Homo sapiens: one gene and its partner. The protein of the gene in region 1 interacts with the protein of each later gene in a pairwise test. Each region holds a gene or a part of one and is shown on either strand. Other genes may lie near its edges.

The links. Proteins that work in one complex are often made in the same cells at the same time.
Region 2: the proteins of WWP2 (region 1) and ADARB1 interact in binary tests that used the Homo sapiens proteins (3 or more experiments, as listed by UniProt).

Annotation. Positions count from the first base shown.
Region 1 is NC_000016.10:69,936,757-69,940,405, reverse strand, and holds part of WWP2 (NEDD4-like E3 ubiquitin-protein ligase WWP2), read right to left. Parts: intron 3,289-3,649; coding exon 3,168-3,288; intron 2,859-3,167; coding exon 2,754-2,858; intron 1,380-2,753; coding exon 1,283-1,379; intron 1,066-1,282; coding exon 993-1,065; intron 566-992; coding exon 466-565; 3' UTR 1-465. UniProt on the Homo sapiens protein: E3 ubiquitin-protein ligase which accepts ubiquitin from an E2 ubiquitin-conjugating enzyme in the form of a thioester and then directly transfers the ubiquitin to targeted substrates.
Region 2 is NC_000021.9:45,182,487-45,186,135, forward strand, and holds part of ADARB1 (double-stranded RNA-specific editase 1), read left to right. Parts: intron 1-98; coding exon 99-267; intron 268-875; coding exon 876-1,024; intron 1,025-1,987; coding exon of another isoform or gene 1,988-2,107; intron 2,108-2,436; coding exon 2,437-2,605; intron 2,606-3,649. UniProt on the Homo sapiens protein: Catalyzes the hydrolytic deamination of adenosine to inosine in double-stranded RNA (dsRNA) referred to as A-to-I RNA editing.

The DNA of each region.
Region 1 (3,649 bases):
GCTCAATTACAGGCAGAACCTCCTTTGCTGGCAAAGACCCTTGGCGCTCTCAGTCCCGAACAGCCACCCCCAGTGGCCAGTCTCCTCGCCGAACTAGTCCAGGAGGTCTCCGGCCTCTGCGGCAGCCCCTGGGGATGCAACACCTTCCCTTGCACACTCACATACACCCAGGGTGGGGTCTAGAGGACAGGGGAGAGTTTTGCAGAGAGGGTCAGCCCTCTGGAACTTTGCAAAGGTGGGGCCAAAGGCAACTAGGGGGCTTTATTCCAGACTGCCATCCGCGGGTCGGGGGAACTGCAGGGCCTCCTGGGATCAGGCTTTTCTGCCAGCAGCGAGATGACAGTGTGGTCCCACACAGGGCCACATCCACGGGGGCCTCCCAAGGGCTGCGGGGCCAGTGGCCTCTCAGGCAGGGAGGACTCAGGACTACATGTGCGCTGGGGGGCGTGGGAGGGGCGGCCTCGGTTACTCCTGTCCAAAGCCCTCGGTCTCCTCAATGGCATACAGCAGCTTCTCTCTCAGCTGTTCGTAGCTCTTGTAGGGTGGAAGATCCAGACGGTTGAAGCTATTGAGAGTGGGGAAGCACGACAGTCAGCCCTAGGAGGCCAGGGCTCTGATAGCCCCACCATGCCTGCCTGCAGCAGGGCCACAGGGCTTGCACCACACTGGCTAGGGCTCAGGGGCTGCCAGTCAGGCCTTCACATTGCAGGTGCCTGGACCATGGGGTGTTAAGGGAGGGGCCAGGACAGCTGGAAATTGGTTGCGGGGGACACTTGGGGCAGTAGCTCTTGGACTACTGGAACAGAAGTGCTTCATATGTAAAACCCGGTAGATCAGATGCCCATCACAGCCCCATCTCTCCAACCCAACACCCCAGGGCCACGCAAAAGCTGCCAGACTCGAGGCTATGAAGCTGCTACACCCACTGGGCTGTCCCAGGAGCTCATCGGGTCTGAGGCCCCCCGACCTCCCACTAAAACCAGCAGGCTCACCAGGTGTGGCTTCTGGGCAGCCAGGTTTCCTTGCCAACTTTGTCAATGCAAAACTTCTGTGGTCCGTTGCTACCTGTGATCCAAGGTAAAACACGCCGACGTCAGCAGAGACGTCCCTTCCCAAAGCAGGATCCTCCGGCTCCACCCACAGATGGGCTCGGCCCCAGGATGCAGAGGCCACAGCTCTTCTCCATCCCACTGACGTGCTTCCAGGAAGAGACTAGGTTTCCCCCTCCCTCTGAGCTGTCCGCACTGCCAGCCAGGACGCCAGAGGGCGAGAGAAAACATACCGATGAGTTCGGCAAATCCCCCGACGGGCAGGCGGCAGGTACCGGTGACAAACTGCAGCAGCCGGATCCTCTTCTCGTTGTCCATCTCCTTCACCACCTGGAAGTCCGCAAGTCAAGGCACAGTCAGGCAACCCACGGGGCCCAGTACTTTGCCCGAACGTGGAGCTCTCTAGCTCAGCGGGGCCCCTCTTTGGGGCTGAGAACACAAAGCCAGGTTGGCCAGGGGATGACAGCCTCCAACCTGAGAAACCCCAGAAGTGCTTTTGCTAAGAGGCTGTGTGTGCATGAGATTCCCACCAGTCCATGGGACATCTCTGGGTCTCAGGGACACCTCAGGCTGGGTATTCTCTTCCCATCCACGTTCTGCTTTTAGAGATGACTAAATATGGGAGTGACTGCTTAATGGGTATAAGGTTTTTGGGGAGATGAAATGTTCCAGAATTAGATAGTGGTGCCAGGTGCACAACACTGTGAATGTACTGGAAGCCACTGCTCTGTCGCCCAGGCTGGAGTGCAGTGGCACGGTCCAGCTCACTGCAGAGCAGTGGCACGGTCCAGCTCACTGCAGTCTCCACCTCCCAGGTTCAAGTGATTCTCATGCATCAGCTTCCCGAGTAGCTGGGATTACAGGTGTCCACCACCATGCCTGGCTAATTTTTTATATTGTTAGTAGAAAGAGGGTTTCACTATTTTGGCCAGGCTGGTCTTGAACTCCTGACCTCAAGTGATCTGCCCACCTCGGCCTGGGTGGGAAGCCAAGGAACCCAAAGTGGAAAGCCACTGAATTGTGTATCTTAAAAAACTTAAATGGGTTGGGCACAGTGGCTCACGCCTGTAATCCCAGCACTTTGGGAGGGTGAGATGGAAGGACTGCTTGAGCCCAGGAGTTCAGGACCAGGCTGGGCACCATAGCAAGACCCTGTCTCTATTGAAAAAAAAAAAATTAATAGTTAATTGTATGTTATACAAATTTCACCTCCACAAAAAATTTGTATACGTACATATGCACACAGACATGTACTAAGAATACCTGTAATCGCTATTTTTTTTTGTATGCTGTATTTCATAACGACAACAACAAAACCCATACGTATAAAAGAATCAACACATTAATTATACATAGGATGACAGCTCTTTCTGGTTTCTGGAGCCAAGCCCCTGCCTTCCTGTCCCATCTGGCTGGCAGGGGACCTCTCAACCAGTGGCAGCTGCTGTCTGCCTGCAGGTCTGTCCCTGCACACCAGCTGGCCCAAGGCTGACCACTGACGACCTCCTGTCACATCCACTGGCCACCACTCAGCTGGAACTGTCCCCGTTCATCCCAAGGCTGGTCTATCGTCTCCTTTTGCAAGGTGTGGGAGGCAAGGACAGGGCCAAAGCTGAAGGTCCTTGCGCGTGAGGCCTCCTCAGGACCCGTTTCCTTTGGTTGATGGCCCAAATGTCCCTGCCAAGGCCTGGGCCCGGGACCCACCTGCCAGAACCACTGGATCTGCTTGCTGTTCTTGGTGTAGTGCCGGTAGATGGTGCTCTTCTGCCAGTCGCTCATGTCTATCTCCTGCATGCCGCACAGCATCAGCTGGGGAGAGGCGGCAGTCAGCATCCCCGGCAGGTCCCTCCCCGCGCATCGTCCACTCGCTAGCACTTGACATTACCCCAAACATATTCAACTAGCTATTTTTGGTGTCAGCGTTAATAATATGGGTAATGTAAGTCCCTGCTTTCTTGAAACAAGTGTCTGGGGAAGGGTGGGTCCCAAATCAAACCCATCTGCCCTGCCGAAGTGGGAGTTTTACGCTGAGTGTCTGTGGGTACACAGTGAGCGTATCACAGAGCAGGATCGCCCCAGAGGCAGGGGCTCAGGGTCCCAGCAACCTCAGACACTCACCTCCAGCTCTTTCTCGTCAAAGTAGCGCAGCCACTCCAGCGGGGCCACCTCGTTGAAGCCATCCAGGAAGGCTTTGGTCTGCTCTTCCACGCCTCGGGTGAAACGCCAGTCAGTCAGCAGCCTGAGACCAAAGAGCAGCCATGGGTGGAGTCTGAGACCCACTGCTCAGGGGTGGCTCCCGGCCAGGCCGCGTGGCCGTTACCGCGCAGGACCACCAGATCAGCAGAGCCCACTTCGCACACCCAGACCCAGCCTGCTGGAGGACCTAGAGTGAGGCCCTGAAAACCTCACAGTGACCTGCAGACACCGGAGTCTTTGAAATCATCCTCACCACCACCTCCTCCTGCTCCTGCCCCCAGCGCCGACTGAACCTCAGACGTATGGAAGCGTGGAGATAAAGACTAAAGCAAGAGGCCTGAGGAACAGGCACGGAGAACGGGCACACGTGAGACGGTGGGTCTAGGCACACAGGCCACAGAGAT
Region 2 (3,649 bases), on another chromosome or scaffold:
AGTTAAGTCACTGAGAATAAGAGTCAGACTTCAGGAGCACAGTTAGGCAAACATTACTGTGAATTACAGAAAATAGTGTCTCTTTTTTTTTTTTTCAGGCACAGATGTTAAAGATGCCAAGGTGATAAGTGTTTCTACAGGAACAAAATGTATTAATGGTGAATACATGAGTGATCGTGGCCTTGCATTAAATGACTGCCATGCAGAAATAATATCTCGGAGATCCTTGCTCAGATTTCTTTATACACAACTTGAGCTTTACTTAAAGTAAGTTTAGTAAACAAATAAGGACAGGAAGCTCTTTTTAAAAAATATTCCTCTATTAGAAAACATTGCAAAACCTTTCATTGTTTCTGTAATCATGGAAAATCTCTCAAAATCATAACTTTAATTAGTAACAATAAGGCTGCATCCCATTCTTCCACAATGCTCAACACACATATGCACACATACATACAATAACATAACATGGTCATAAATTTCAAGTCTGTGTTTAAGACCATGTGATTTTGTTGTATGCTGTATAAATAGAAGTTCCCAAACTGCCAGGTAAAGATGGTAATTTTTATTCTAGTCACCGTTTCTAGAAAGAGCTAGTCATGTATCCAAACTCCTTTTCTTTACAAAGCCATTTTTTGTATGTGGTCTTTCTGTTCTGAAGTCATAAATTGGAAGAAGGAAAGGTTACTCACATCCTGATGACATATCCATTATTGAGTGACAAGAACTGTATTAATTACCCTAAACATGTAAAATAAATATTCCAGTTCAAACTTATCTTTCCCTTGTGGAAAATACTAGCCTCTGAAAATGATAGACTAAAATTTAACTATATACAGCTTTAAATGTTACTTTTGCAACTTTTTTCCTTTCAGTAACAAAGATGATCAAAAAAGATCCATCTTTCAGAAATCAGAGCGAGGGGGGTTTAGGCTGAAGGAGAATGTCCAGTTTCATCTGTACATCAGCACCTCTCCCTGTGGAGATGCCAGAATCTTCTCACCACATGAGCCAATCCTGGAAGGTATGAGACGAGATTCTTCAACAAGCCAGTTTCTCAAGAAAATGTTAACAGATAAAAACTAACCTGTGTTAATATCCCTTTTCCTTTTTTTCTTTTTATTTTTAGACTTGGATGTGGATCTGATAAGAGTCTCTATAAAAGCATGGATTTTTTTCTTTCCAATTAACTTAATTAGAAAACTTTAATGAATGAAAAATGCTGATTGTAATTAACCAAGTAATTAGAATGGAGTGAGAATATTGGATTAAAATTGTATCAGTATTTAAATTTGGGTAATAAATATCTCTAAATCAGAGGTGTATGTGATCCTCCATATTTCTGAGGAATTCTAATTTGCTAAATGTGTAATTAAAGTATTTATTTGCCTGATATTTCAGAAGCAGATAAACACTAGTGAAAAGTGAAACCACTATTGTGATCATATTTTTTTCCATCCTTCTTTACATTTGAGGTTAGCACTTTTGTTTTTTAGTGTTTTGTATCTACATCCCTTCTCCCAAGCCCTTAGGCATTGTTTATTCCAAATAGAACGTTTTATTACATTACTTTCCTTGTTTATAAAAGCAACAGGCATACTCACTGTGGAAAATTGCTAACTATTTTTAAAATATAAGAACATTAAAATCATCCGTATTCCTGTAACCCAGAAATACTCACTATGGATGTTTTACCATACTTTCCATGGGTTTATTTCTGCATCTGTCTAGATTTATTTTGGAAATTTTAAAAATATAGAGGAAAATAACATGGCAAACACCCAAGTATCCATCACCCAGAATTAGCAAATGTTAGCATTTTGTCCTATTTGCTTCAGTGCATTTTTAATGATAGAAATAAATCATTTCAGTTAAAGTGAAAACCCCATTTCCCCAACTCCCTTGGAGACCACTTTTGTGAATTTTGTTTGTGTTATGTCCTTCCTACTCAATTTCATATAATTTTTTTTTTTTTTTTTTGAGACAGGGTCTCGCTCTTACACCCAGGCTGGAGTGCAGTGGTGCAATCATGGCTCACTGCAGCCTCGACCTCCTGGGCTCTTAAGCGATCCTTCCACCTCAACCTTCCAAGGAGCTGGGACTACAGGCATGTACCACTATACCTGGCTAATTTTTATATTTTTTATAGAGATGGGGTTTCACCATGTTGCCCAGGCTGGTCTTAAACTCCTGGGCTCAAGCGATCCACCTGCCTCAGCCTCCCAAAGTGCTGAGATTACAGGTGTGAGCCACCATACCCAGCCTCTCAGCTTCACATACTTATTTTGTATGTGTATTTTGTATGTATGGCATAAACATATGCATTTATATGCACAGACTGTATTTTAAATTTATAAGCTATTGTTAGATGTGCTTTTCAATAAATCAAATAGATGGTTTACTACCTGTGGGGTTTTAACTCTTTTTCTCTCTTAGAACCAGCAGATAGACACCCAAATCGTAAAGCAAGAGGACAGCTACGGACCAAAATAGAGTCTGGTGAGGGGACGATTCCAGTGCGCTCCAATGCGAGCATCCAAACGTGGGACGGGGTGCTGCAAGGGGAGCGGCTGCTCACCATGTCCTGCAGTGACAAGATTGCACGGTAAGGGGCGGGGGCTCCCTGTGGCCACCTCCCTGCACACAGGATTCATCCATACTGTTTGCCAACCTCCCTTTTCCACAACCATTTGAATTTTGGCCCCATTTCCCACTCAGGTGTTCCACAGTATTCTTTGAAGGACTGAGGTTCTAAACAGGTGCTGCTGGGACCCCCGTGAGGGGCAGCAGCAGGACCTAGACACAGGAGGCTCCACGCTTCTAACATTCCTATCCAAGCGTCTCAGAGTTTACCACTTATTTTTAACGTGGGCTTCTGGGTTAAACTGATGTTTTTAATGGGCTACAGGCCATGACATCTTAAAACTACTGGCTTCTCCTCATTAGTAGTAGATGCAACTTCAGTGGTCACTTTCATCATTCAGTTAACATTTTAGGTAGTTGATATGTGCATTTTAAAAGTAATGCAAACCCTGTCACAGGCATTGTGTTCTAAGCACAGAGAGCATCCCCAGCCATTCTGTGCCTGGGTGTGGGTTAGGCTTAGAGGAGGGCTCTGCAAGCACACTTCTGTAGTCAGCAGGCACCTGGGAGATATTCATCTTTCAGAGGCCTGTATCCAGAGCAGATTATAGAAAACCCATTTCTTCAGATGGTATCAGTTCCAGTAGTTCTTTGTTTTCATTTTTAAACTAATGTTTATTTGGAAAAAAAAAGTAACATAAGCAGATGGCAAAAAGCATACAATGATAAAGTTTAAAACCTCCCTCTTCAGAGCCCTCCTGTGGCACCCACAGTGAGTGGGTTTTGACTGTCCATCCAGAAGCTGTCAAAATTGATGCATACGCATGTGCACGTGCACATCTTTTCATTGTTTGTGTGCCCTTTATGTTGATTTCCTTCAGTGGGTCTTGTCAGGCAACCTCAAGTACAGGGAGCTGGATTAATCACACATTTTGGGCCATTGCCCACAGCCCAGGTGACCACTGTGATGTGTTTATTTATTATTTGTCCTTCCAGTCCACCTCCACACGTGCATATGTCAACTTTGTGTGTGTGTGATGTGGGGGAGGGGGGTGTACTCTTGAAA